Regions from separate parts of the Homo sapiens genome. Here regions 1, 2 and 3 are each reported to be linked to region 4. Evidence: microRNA targets listed by miRTarBase, many of them from high-throughput screens and not tested one by one. Region 4 holds a microRNA gene; each other region holds the end of a gene's coding sequence.
The links. Region 4 holds the annotated microRNA hsa-miR-4487 (AGAGCUGGCUGAAGGGCAG, at 1,468-1,486, opposite strand). A microRNA usually pairs through its seed, bases 2 to 8, with sites in the 3' UTR of a target mRNA and lowers its output. Matches are read on the target gene's strand: a 7mer-m8 pairs with bases 2 to 8, a 7mer-A1 pairs with bases 2 to 7 and ends in A, and an 8mer does both.

Region 1: miRTarBase lists ZNF250 as a target of hsa-miR-4487. Seed matches in the 3' UTR shown: 7mer-A1 at 2,104-2,110.
Region 2: miRTarBase lists IMP4 as a target of hsa-miR-4487. The part of its 3' UTR that is shown has no 7-base or 8-base seed match.
Region 3: the mRNA of ST8SIA3 is a reported target of hsa-miR-4487. Seed matches in the 3' UTR shown: 7mer-A1 at 169-175.

Annotation. Positions count from the first base shown.
Region 1 is chr8:144,879,009-144,882,118 of GRCh38, reverse strand. It overlaps ZNF250 (zinc finger protein 250), which reads left to right. Exons shown (of 6, transcript NM_001109689.4): 6 at 1-3,110. The coding sequence ends at 604. Among named protein-coding and RNA genes, the nearest start is that of ZNF250, 21 kb to the left of the region's middle. RefSeq lists enhancers at 2,543-2,732, 2,933-3,082.
Region 2 is chr2:130,345,883-130,348,984 of GRCh38, forward strand. IMP4 (IMP U3 small nucleolar ribonucleoprotein 4) reads left to right here. Exons shown (of 9, transcript NM_033416.3): 6 at 1-51; 7 at 136-230; 8 at 319-392; 9 at 474-2,085. The coding sequence ends at 586. Among named protein-coding and RNA genes, the nearest start is that of IMP4, 4.5 kb to the left of the region's middle.
Region 3 is chr18:57,360,035-57,363,144 of GRCh38, reverse strand. It overlaps ST8SIA3 (ST8 alpha-N-acetyl-neuraminide alpha-2,8-sialyltransferase 3), which reads right to left. Exons shown (of 4, transcript NM_015879.3): 4 at 1-3,110. The coding sequence ends at 2,868. Among named protein-coding and RNA genes, the nearest start is that of ST8SIA3, 9.0 kb to the right of the region's middle.
Region 4 is chr11:47,399,360-47,402,469 of GRCh38, reverse strand. MIR4487 (microRNA 4487) reads right to left here and starts at 1,500; the gene lies at 1,428-1,500. The region is part of intron 2 of SLC39A13-AS1 (SLC39A13 antisense RNA 1); the gene reads left to right. RefSeq lists an enhancer at 1,032-2,032 and a silencer at 2,082-2,441.

The sequences.
Region 1 (3,110 bases), not on the chromosome of region 4:
CCACACCGGGGAGAAGCCCTACACGTGCAGCGAGTGTGGGAAGGCCTTCAGCGACCGCTCAGTCCTCATTCAGCACCACAACGTGCACACCGGGGAGAAGCCCTATGAGTGCAGTGAGTGTGGGAAGACCTTCAGCCACCGCTCCACACTGATGAATCACGAGCGGATCCACACCGAGGAAAAGCCCTATGCATGCTACGAATGTGGGAAGGCCTTCGTTCAGCACTCACACCTGATCCAGCACCAGAGAGTCCACACTGGGGAGAAGCCCTATGTGTGTGGTGAATGTGGGCACGCCTTCAGTGCACGCCGGTCTCTGATCCAGCATGAGAGAATCCACACAGGTGAAAAGCCCTTCCAGTGCACAGAATGTGGCAAAGCCTTCAGCCTGAAAGCAACTCTGATTGTGCACCTGAGGACCCACACGGGCGAGAAGCCATATGAGTGCAATAGCTGCGGGAAGGCCTTCAGCCAGTACTCAGTGCTCATCCAGCACCAGCGGATCCACACAGGCGAGAAGCCCTATGAGTGCGGGGAGTGTGGGCGTGCCTTCAACCAGCATGGCCACCTAATCCAGCACCAGAAAGTGCACAGAAAGTTGTGACCCATGGCTGACACAAGAATCCATTCTCACAGAAACTGCATGTGGAACCACAAGCAGCCTTCAGCCCAAGAGAAGTCTCTGTTAACTCTATAGGAAGCTTTTCTTTGGCGATTCAGTGTCACAAAATAACTCCAGAAAGAAGCACTTAGCGTGCTGTTCCTGTGGAAAAACTTCAGAGACTACCTGTTTTATTTTCCTCAACATCTTGAAGTTATGTTGGAGAGTAATCATACAATTGTAGAGAATTTTGGTAAAAAACAGCCATAATTCTTTAACATTAGTTTATTTGAACTAAGGGAATTTAAGGCATAAGAACCATTATCCCAATAAAATCTTACATTCCAAATAAAGTTCTTTTTCTAAGAACATTACATGCCCTTCCTAAATATCAATTAACCATACTAATTATTGCACTTAAAATTTGAAAGTCGGACTATTTTCAGTATTCTCTTAAAAGACTAAAGTATTGTATGGATAAAGTGATATAAAAAGATATTTTCATCAAGCATCATGTAAAATGGTTGGAAATCCTAAGTGTGTGGATTTCCATCCTAAGTGTGTGGAGTCCTGTTTTGTATGAAACAAGGAAAAAGCTTATATATTAGTGAGAAATTACATAAATTTAAAAAACTTTTTGTATGTGTGTGTGGAGATAGTCTTGCTCTGTTGCCCAAGCTGCAGTGCAGTGGCATGATCTTGGCTCACTGCAGTCTCCGCCCCCACCCCAGGTTCAAGCTTTTCTTGTGCCTCAGTCTCCCAAGTAACTAGGATTATAGATATGCGCCACCACACCTGGCTAATTTTTGTATTTTTAGTAGAGACGGAGTTTCACCGTGTTGGCCAGGCTGGTCTCGAACTCCTGGCCTCAAGTGATCCTCCCACCTTTGCTTCCGAAAGTGTTGGGATTACAGGCGTGAGGCACCATGCCTGGCCTAGAAAACCCTTTATCTGGAGCTTTTAACTTTATTCAAGATCAGAAAGGTTATGCTAACTTTTTAGTAAAAATTCAACTCAAAAATGGGTATTTTCCTCAAAACTTGCCCTTATGACCTGCAGATCCTGTGCCCCAGAAACCGTGAGATGTCTCAATTCCCATGCAGGCAAAGGAGGGGAGCTTCACACTCAGCAGACCTCATAGCTGTTACACCAAGTGGGTACCTCTTTACATCTTATGGTATTTCCCCCAAAACAATGCTGAAAATACTGTTCTTTGGTAGATATATTTAAAACATACATTTCTCAAATTCAGATAGCTCTTTTTTACTATCTCTAGTATTTCTATTCCTATATTTGAAGGGGTTTTTTTTTTCATTTTTTTACTCCTGGTTCAAGAGTCCAGTATCCATTGCCATATTACTATGATGAAGATGAATCTAGTTTATTCATAATTAAAAATTTGTATTCAGAATTATTTGTTCTGTTTTAAGCATACTTTTTTTTTTTTTTTTGAGACAAAGTCTTGCTCTTGTTCCCCAGGCTGAAGTGCAATGGCACAATCTCAGCTCACTGCAATCTCCACCTCCCAGGTTCAAGCAATTCTCCTGCCTCTGCCTCCCAAGTAGCTGGAATTACAGGCACCTGCTACCACGCCCGACTAATTTTCGTATTTTTAGTAGAGATGAGGTTTCACCATGTTGGCCAGGCTGGTCTCAAACTCCTGACCTCAGGTGATCCGCCCGCCTCGGCCTCCCAAAGTGCTGGGATTACAGGCGTGTGCCACCGCACCCGGCCAAGGATACAGTTCTTGAAACCGAATCAGAACCATTTCTAGTAGCAGCCAGCTGCAAACGAAACAAATGTATGAGGTTCAAGCCACTTGAAATTCTCAACATGTTAAGTGCCTGAGATAGAGAAGGGCTGTCTTCACCCCAGGCCCCCGCCCCCAACATCTGTCAGTTTGGTGGGGAGGAAATAGTCACCAGGATATTGATCCTTTTTGTTTGTTTTAAAGACGGTCTTGCTCTGTCACCAGGTTGGAGTGCAGTGGTGCCATCATGGCTCACCGCTGCCTCAAACTCCTGGGCTGAAGCAGTCCTCCCACCTCACCTTCCCAAAAGGTTAGGATTACAGGCATGAGCTGCTGTGCCCATCCAGGCATTGATCCTTAAGTCCACAGCAAAACACCACGATGTAGACAAAAGCTTGTTCCCCCTTCTATGTACAGACACTGACAACAGTGAATTATTAACTCCAGAGAGGAACTGGTAACTGATTGGTTAACTTGAGAAAGGAGCTGACATCACTGGTGTTTTACTTCAGAGCAACTGAAACCACTGAAGTGAAATTCCAGAGGAACTAATATTACTGAGGTGTTACTTCAGAGGGACTGAGATCACTGAAGTGAAACCTCAGATAGCTCAGATAACCAAGGTGTTAACCTTAGAGGTGTTGCCATTCTGTGAGGTGTTGTTTCAGATAGATAAAATAACTAAGGTGTTAGTTCAGAGAAGACAAGAGCTTAACTGTTTCTTTGGAGAAGAGCTGAGATCACTGAGGCGTCACTTCA
Region 2 (3,102 bases), not on the chromosome of region 4:
GCCAAGCCCCACCTCATCACACACGGCTTCTCCTCCCGCCTGGGCAAGCGGGTGAGTCTGGGGGCCTTCAGGCTGGGGCTGCGGGCCAGGCCAGGCATTTGCCACTCTGTTTCCCTCTCTTTCCTTGTGCCCCAGGTCTCTGACATCCTCCGATACCTATTTCCCGTGCCCAAAGATGACAGCCACCGGGTCATCACCTTCGCAAACCAGGACGACTACATATCATTCCGGTGGGTCCACGGGCCATGCCCCAGGAAAGCATCCCCACCCTGTGTACCTCGTGCTGCTTGCCGTTGACCCACAGCTGTTCCCTCCCAGGCACCATGTGTATAAGAAGACAGACCACCGCAACGTGGAGCTCACTGAGGTCGGGCCCCGCTTTGAGCTGAAGCGTGAGTTTGAGGCTGAATCCCGTGTCTGGGGTGGGGAGGGGAGGCTGGCTGTGCCGGGGCTGATGCCATCCCTGCCTGCAGTGTACATGATCCGTCTGGGCACGCTGGAGCAGGAGGCCACAGCAGACGTGGAGTGGCGCTGGCACCCTTACACCAATACCGCACGCAAGAGAGTCTTCCTGAGCACCGAGTGAGCACACTCACCACTCAGTCAGGACATGGACTTGGAACTCAGGATGGGGCTGTCATAGACAGACCCACCAGTAGGAACTGTCACAGAATGGCCTGCTGAACTGGGATGTGGAACTGTGGCGGGTGGAGAGGTCTGAATAAACCGTCTGTGTCATGGCCCCGCCTGCCTCTGAGTGGTCAGGCCAAGTCTGCAGGGCAAAGCCCATGGGATCCCTTTGGGTGGGGACCTGATGGCTGTGGGACGTGCTTGGGCCTGGAGTCAGTGTGGGGGTTAACAGAGAGAGAGATTTGATGCTAACGTCCCCTCAAGAGTGAGGGTCATATGAGCTCTTCAGCAGGCAGATGTGGGTAGCAGGGCCAGCCTGTGTCAGGGGCAGCCCACCAAGTTAACTCACTGAGTGGAAGCCGCCAGTGTGCCAACGCGGAGGGGACAGGCCACACCCAGTGCTCAGCAGCTGATTCCTCATGTAAGTGGCATCATGTGGTATTTGTTTTGTGTCTGGCTTATTTCTATTAACATAATGTTCTCCAGGTTCCTCCATGTTATTGCAAATGATAGGATTTCTTTCCTTGTAAAAAATAACATGCCACATTTTCTTACCAATCCGTCCACCAATAGACACTTAGGTCGTTTTCATAGTTTGGCAGTTGTGGAAATGCTGCAGTAAACATGGGAGTATAGCTATCTTTTGAAGATAATGATTTCATCTCTTTTTTATATGTATACCCAGAAGTGGGATTGCTGCATCAAATGGTGGTTCTATTTTTAATTTTTTGAGGAACCGCCATACTGTTTTCCATAAAGGCTGTACTAATTTCCATTCTCACCAACAGTTCACTAGGGTTCCCTTTTCTCCACATTGTTGCCAACATTCTTTATCTTGTGTTTTTTAATAACAGCTATCCTAACAGGTATGAGGTGATCTCTCTCATTGCGGTTTTGATTTGCATTTCCCTAACGGTTGGTGATACTGAGCATTTTTGCATACACCGGGTCATTTGTTCTTTGTTGTTGACTTGAGTCCCTTATATAGTTTGGATACTGCTGTGGCCTGAATGTTTGTGTCCCCCAAAAATTCGTATATTGAACTCTCATCCCTAAGGTCAACAGTTTAGGGAAGCGATTAGGTCCTGAGGACTCTGCCCTCTTGCATAGAATTAGTGCTCTTATAAAAGATGCCCGAGGGAGCTCTTTTGCCCCTCCTGCCATGTGAGGACACAGCTAGAAGCTACCATCTGTGAACCAGGAAGCCCCCCTCACCAGACACTGAATCTGCTGGAGCCACCATCTTGGACTTCCCAGCCTCCAGAGCTGTGAGAAATAAATGCCTGTTGTTTAAGCTACCCAGTCTGTGGTATTTTGTTAGAACAGCCCAAGTTGAGACAGATAGTAACCCTTTACCAGATACATGGTTTGCAAATAGTTTTTCCCACTCTGTAGATATAGCCATTGAGAAGCTCCTCAAGATAGACATTAAATACAAAGAAGCATGGTGTGAAACGCCATGTGTGATATGCTGTCAGTGTGCAAAAGAGGCAGGGAGGGCCCTGCACTTGCATGTATGTGCTGCATCATCCCCAGAAGGCTGAACTCCTTGCTGGTGCACTGGGTACCCAGGGAGGAGGGAGGTTCTTTACTGTAATGTTAGCAGGTGAACATTGTATCCACTTGACCACGAAGAACTGCCCTCTTGAGTTCTCTGCCCATTTTTTGGGGGGGTACAGGCGGACACTTGGAAGACATCCTTATGATAAAAAAGCATACAGAAGGCCTGGTGCAGTCACTCACACCTGTAATAATCCCAGCGCTTTGGGAGGTCAAGGCAAGGAGGTTCACTTGAAGTCAGGAGTTTGAGACCAGCCTGGGCAATACAGGGAGAGCTCATCTCTACAAAACATTTTTAAAAACACACACAAGTGCACATGGTGAAAAGTAAACCATCATCCTCCTTCCACCCCAAAGAACCCATCCCTAGTCTCCAGAGGTCATCAGTATTGACTTTTTAAAGAAGCTGGACTGATATCTTTTATTCATGGTATCCATAAGTTTGTTGACTGTTAATTATATTTTAACCTGAAAGGGATCATGTTGTGCACACTACTCTGAACCTTGCATCTTACCCTTTAATGACAAATGGATGCCACAGGGCTCCAAGGCTGTCTAGTACACATGGATCTGCCTCCTTCCTTGTGGCTACATTGTTGGGTGGCTTCCTGTTTTTACCCCCACAAATACTGCTTCGAGAGCATCATTGAACATACTTCTGTGCATATTTATGCAAGTGTATCTGATGCATACATCCCTACAAGAGGAATTCGGGCGTGGTGGCTCACACCTGTAATCCCAGCACTTCGGGAGGCTGAGGCGGGCGGATCACCTGAGGTCCGGAATTCAAGACCAGCCTGGCCAACATAGTGAAACCCCATCTCTACTAAAAATACAAAAAATTGACCTGGCATGGTGGCGGGTGCCTGTAATCCCAGCAGCTCAGGAGGCTGAGGCAGGAGAATCGCTTGA
Region 3 (3,110 bases), not on the chromosome of region 4:
ATGGTAAAATGTATTCCAATAGCTGAAAGTGGACTCTGTTGTGAGTATCCTAAAAAAGGGAAAGTGTCTGACAAAAGGATAAATTAGTCTAGAACTAACAAAGCAAGGTCAATGCAAAAGCCAGGGCATGTGTCTGTAGCTGAAAGAGGAGGAAAGAGCCAATGGTCCTGAGCTGATTACTGCCCAGTTCACTGCACTTGACTACACAAGCCTGGGAGCTGCAGGAGAGCCAGCTGCCTTTCTAATTAGGACACTTGGGACACAACAACTTTTTTGGTCATAAAAGTGGTTGTATAGATTTAATCTTTGAAACAGTCTTTAAAAACAAACAGAGATTTTGCATGGTCAGCTAGAAGCTGCTATTCTTCAAAAGTGAAGGGTGATCTATTGGGATCATCTCCAGGAAGTCCTCCTTATAAGCAGAGATGAGCCTGATCTCTAAACCCCTCAAGTTCTGAAGAAAAGTCCATTTCCTCACTATTTTGAGTTTTCATTAAAGTGATAGATAACACGGTGGTGGGGGATGGGAAAGTCCTCCCACTCTAAGGTTAAGATGGAGCCAAGACTGCAAGGAGATTTAAAAAATCTCCCTGAACTTAAAAAACAAACAAAAATCCTTGGCATTATGATGAGATAAAATTTAAATTGTCCACTACAGAACAGTAAACTGTTTTTTAGAGATTCTGGTCTTTTCCTCTTTTAATCTTCTTGGTTTAAAGTGTCTATGCATTTATATTTAGTGAAAATGAATGGGCACATTGGGATTAAAACTCCAGAGTCAGAATCTGGCCCAAGTAATATTGGCATTAATATCACTTAGCTATAACCAAATGAACTAAGTGCTCAGGAACAGCCAACTAAACACTTCTGTCAGTTGTCAATCTCTCAGTGATCCCAACAGAGCACAGTGTGAGGATGGTAGTACAGTCCTCTTCAAAGGGACAGGGAACAAACACGGTGTGGTTGTGATACCCATCAAATTATACCACTGAATTACAAAATGTTTTTAATGTCTCCCCTTATAATTATATTGTAATGTGTGTCATAATTGGTAACACATTTGAACTTGGTGTTTCTTTCATTAGTTAATATCTAGATCTATGCAAGTTGCTCTAATTAGATTGCTTTCTGAAAATAATAATAAGGCAGGTTTAGGACCAGGCAGAACGTGAGCATAACGATAGTGTCTTTCCTTACCATATTCGGTTTAATTTTAGGCATGATCTTACCTTCCTAAAGAGGGGCAATGAGCTCATCACTGAACTACAGCACATTTTTTAAACAGTTATTTGTCGCATTGCAAGCAATCTAGATGAGATTTCAGGAAAAGAATGAGCTACCCCACTCAAATGCATAACAAATATGCTTGACTGGCATTTGGAAAGAAGAAAGAAACTCTTATTAAAATTTAACATCAACTTGGCCAGACGTTGGGCTGAATTGGAAGAACAAAGTGCTGCTCAGTAAAAAGCCAGGGATGGGAATGATTTGATTTCTACTCATATGGCTGAAATAAAGAAAATGAGAATGGCCAGCTACTTCCTTCATCGCAGGTCTACATAATCTTGGATTCCAACTCTTGCCACTGCACAATGGCTTTTTCTTTTGAAATGCTTAATTTGTAGTTGTATAGATCTGACTTCAGTGGAAAGAGGGAATATCCAGTGCTACAATGTTCTCAAAGAGAGCAAATGGTTCTGGATTGGTGGTGGTGCACACAATGATACGGAAAACGATCGCACCTCAGCACTAGTCACCTGGGCACCTGGCCTGGCCAAGATCCTCCTCCACTTTAACCCAGCTGGAATGGGTAACATGGTTACCACACTTTAGGGTACACAGGATTCCATAACAACTTCTAAATATTCTTCTTCCTTTTCCTTTGTGTGTCCCAGGGTCTTAAGCTGATTCATTGCCTCTATATTCTGAGAGAACACCCAGCCTAGTGCATGGGTTGGGATTATGGGAGACACTAAATTTAGGCTGGAATGGCCTTACAGATGTGGCCACAGTGCTATTATTTGCCATAACAATGCCTACATCAAGAGACGCAATGCTATCCACAACATAGGCTTTCTTTGTGATCATGAAAGATGCACTGCCTTATATCCCACTCACCACAGAGGGACCATCTTGCTGTAGAATGACTGAATGGACTGGTGAGGACTGCATCAGAGGCATTTCTTTAAAAAAGGAATCACAAGGGAGTCCATCGTGATTTGCCTATTTTGTCATGAAGCATCAAAGTTACCCAGAACCTTAAACACATCAAGTACAAATGCAACATATACAAGCAAAGCGAATTCAATAGGATTCCTAGCAAATTATTAAACTCCACGGTGGTAGGGCAGGGAGTAGTTGCAGAGGGAAGGAGTGAGATGGTGATAGAGATGGAGATAGGGAGATAGATAGAAGATGAGATATGCAAACCAGTTTTTTACGTTTCCATTTTTCAGAGTCTGATCCCACCAGCAAAACAGGTCCTGCCCCAGTTGGCCAGAGGCCTCTGATTATGAGGACTATCTGAGCAGAGCTGCAGAAACTATAGCTCTAGTCCTCATAAAAATGAGAGGCAGTTTATTATTAAAATCCAAACATGAAAATACTTCAAACCATTTCGTTAGCAGCATAGTCCCAAATGCAACATTCCCTTTATCAATCAAGTCTAAACCATGTGGCTTCAATGCATCTGTCCTGCTAAATCTGCTAAAACTCTTAAAAGAGCAGTGCAAAAGAGAAAAGACATCTTTCCTTTTAAATGGCAGACAATCCTTATAAGACATTCTCTAGGGTTCTATTCTGAAGGCTATTCAATTTGATTTGGGGCACTTTTTAAACAGCCATTTGGCGCTTTCCGTTTGGAGTTCTTAGGCACAGTGTGACAGAGTCAGCTTGGTGAGCCCTTCCCCATGCATTCGGTACAGCAGCTGAAACTCAGCAGGCAGCTGGTGGGACTCCTGCCACTTGGTGGTAAATTTGGTTCCTTTTTTGTCATAGTAATGGTATGGAAGATCTTCCCTTGTGTTGGGGTCAAATCCAAACGGCCAAAATCCATACAAGTGGATCTCTTCACATATTGCTGATGCAAGGGTGTACATAAGAATACCTGT
Region 4 (3,110 bases):
CACCTGACTCTTGCTTTTATTTTTTTGATAAAGCTTTTTCTGACATATGTATGTATACCTAGACAATATTCCATTTGAATTGGCTTTTTTAAAAAAAAAACTATTTTAAGGTTTTACATTATTTAGTGAATTTAACAATTGTTTTCCTATAGGTTCTGCATAATTATTACCAAGTTTACTTCTAGATATTTTATATTTGTGGGGATATATATATATATATATATATATATATATTTTTTTTTTTTTTTTTTTTTTTTTTTTTTTGAGACAGAGTCTCACTCCGTTGCCCATGCTGGAGTATAGCACAATCTCCGCTGACCACAACCTCGGCCTTCTGGGCTCAAATGATCCTCCCACTTCAGCCTCCCAAGTAGCTGGGACCACAGGCACAAACCACCATGCTCGGCTAATTTTTTTTTGGTATTTTTTGTAGAGATGGGGTTTTGCCATGTTGCCCAGGCTGGTCTTGAACTCCTGGCCTCCCAAAGTGCTAGGGACACAGGCTTGGGCTACCATGCCCAGCCTAGAGTCTTTTATGTGGGTAATCATACCATCTCCTAATAACAAAGGTATTAGAAACAGGGAAGGAACATTGTTATTTGTAAAGATATGGCTTGGCTTGGTTTTGAACTTCATGAGAAGGGTAAGGACAGCTGTCCTTTGGCGTCCTGGCGGGGATGGGGGGGAGTTGGTTCCAAGACCCCCTGAGGATACCAAAATCCACAGATGCTCAATCCCTGATATAAAATGGTGTGGTATTAAATATTTGCATATTTAGCCTACCACATCCTCCCATATACTTTAAATCATCTCTAGATTGCCGAAAACAATGTAAATGCTATGTTAATCGCTGTTACATGGTATTGTTTGGGGAACAATGACAAGAAAAAAAGTCTGTACATGTTTAGTACAGACACAACCATCCATTTTTTTCTCCAAATATTTTCCATCCGAGGTTGGTTGAATCCATGGATGTGGAACCCAGGGATACAGAGAGCCGCAAGTATCCATCTTCTGGGACTGACTTTTTCCACTCAATACCATGGTGCAAAGATTCCTTCATGATATTGGTGAACCTGTGGGTCACCTGCTTGCATTGCTGAATGATCTCCACCCTGTGAATGTGTCTACTGTAATTTATTTATCCATTCTCTTATCAGTGGGCCCTGGGGTTATTTCAGGATTTTTTTTGCTATTAGGGACAACGTGAATATTTTTGTCCCTGTCTCTTGGCGCACTTGTCAGAGAACTTATCTTGATTTGCTGCCTGGGGGGATGTGTGGGTGACAGCCTCTGTACCTCCACTTCGTGAGATAAGGCCAGATTGCTCTCCCTAGGGGGCTATTTGGAGCCGCATCCTGACTAGCCACATGCAGGAGGGCCTGCTGCTCCCCTCCTTGCCAGCTCTGGCTGAAGGACAGTTCCCTTCTGCCCTTCAGCCAGCTCTGGCTGAAGGACAGTTCCCTTCTGCCCTTCAGCCAGCTCTGGCTGAAGGACAGTTCCCTTCTGCCCTTCAGATGGTGTAAATAGCATCTCATTGTGGTCTGAATTTGCATCGCCCTCATCAGCAGTGAGGCTGAGCCTCCCTTAGATGGTATTTGAGCAAATTCGTTTTCTCTGCCCTAACATGCCTGCGCTGCGTGTGTGTTATCTATTTTTTTATATTGGATTGCTTGATTTTCTTTTCCTTGATTTGCAAGAGTTCCTTATGTATTTTTGAGGCTATGCCCCGCTGCACTCCGCAGGCATCTCCAGTTGTGACTTCCTTTTCACTTTCTCTGAGGTGTCTCCGCTTCTCTCTCCCCCCCCCACACCTGTCCCAGGGAGGCCACTTGGCATTGTTAGTGTGGGGGGAGGTCGTGTGCCTCTCAGAGCCCTGTTTAAACTGACTCCACTGTTCCTCTTGTCCCTGGGGCCTTAAGGAACCCCTTTCCTCTTCCTTCTCAGACCCCCTCCCATTTTTGGCGAAGACAACTTAGTTTGGGGAGCTCCTATTGGGTTGTGGGCGAGTATCCCGGGACAACTCGGGCCTCACTGCAATGGTGTCCCCCCCCCCCCGTCTCGGTTATTTATCACTTCCGGCTGCCCACCTGGGGGGGCTGGGCCCCCTCTCCGCTCGACTGGGCCGCAGCCGGGCAGCTCGGGCGCTCCCCTGGGGGCGGGCGGCGCGGGGGAGGGGCCCTAGGGGGGCGGGGCCGGGGGCCGGGCCTGCGGCGGGGGCTGGAGTTGGGGGGCGGAAGCTGCCGGAGCAGATAAGGGCCGAGGTCGGCCCTGCGGTGGGACAGTGCGGGACACCGCCTCCGCCCCCGGCCTCCCCAGAGCGCCCCCGCACCCTGGAGACCCCCTCCTGCTACCCAGGCTTGGCATCCCGGGAGGAGACCCCAGGGAGCAGTGGGGGATGAGGCTCCAGCCTGCTCACAGCCTCAGCGACGAGCGGCAGCGGGGCTTCACGCCTCAGTTATCTCAGCTGGAAAATGGGGGTAGGAGCTCGGTTTTCCCCACAGGGCTGTTGGTGATGGACCAAGTGCAGGCTTGTGAAGGTCTCTGTGGGTTGGGCGAGTTTTGAACAGAGGGTCCTCTAAGCATCGCATCGCCTCATTCATCCCCATTGTATAGATGGCAAAGTGGGGAGTTTCACCCAAAGCCCCAGAGCCAGCATGCAAAAAGCAAGTGGGAGGGGGTTGGAACGCTTTCCACCGCCCCACCCTGGGGACAGATCTAGGTTCCCAGGAGCCTGAAGCTTAAAACCATTTGGGGGGGCACTCTTTAAGGAAAAGATTACAAAGTCACAAATACAAAATTGCTGAGAGGCTGGGCGCAGTGGCTCACACCTGTAATCCCAGCACCTTGGGAAGCCAAGGTGGGCGGATCACTTGACGTCAGGAGTTCCAGACCAGCCTGGCCAACATGGTGAAACCCTGTCTCTACTAAAATACACAAATTAGCTGGACGTGATGGTGGGCGCCTGTAATCCCAGCTACTCGGGAGACTGAGGCAGGAGAATCGTTGAACCCGGGAGGCAGAGGTTGCAGTGAGCTGAGATGATCGCACCACTGCACTCCAGTCTGGGTGACAGAGCTAAACTCTGTCTCAAAACAAAAAACAAAAAC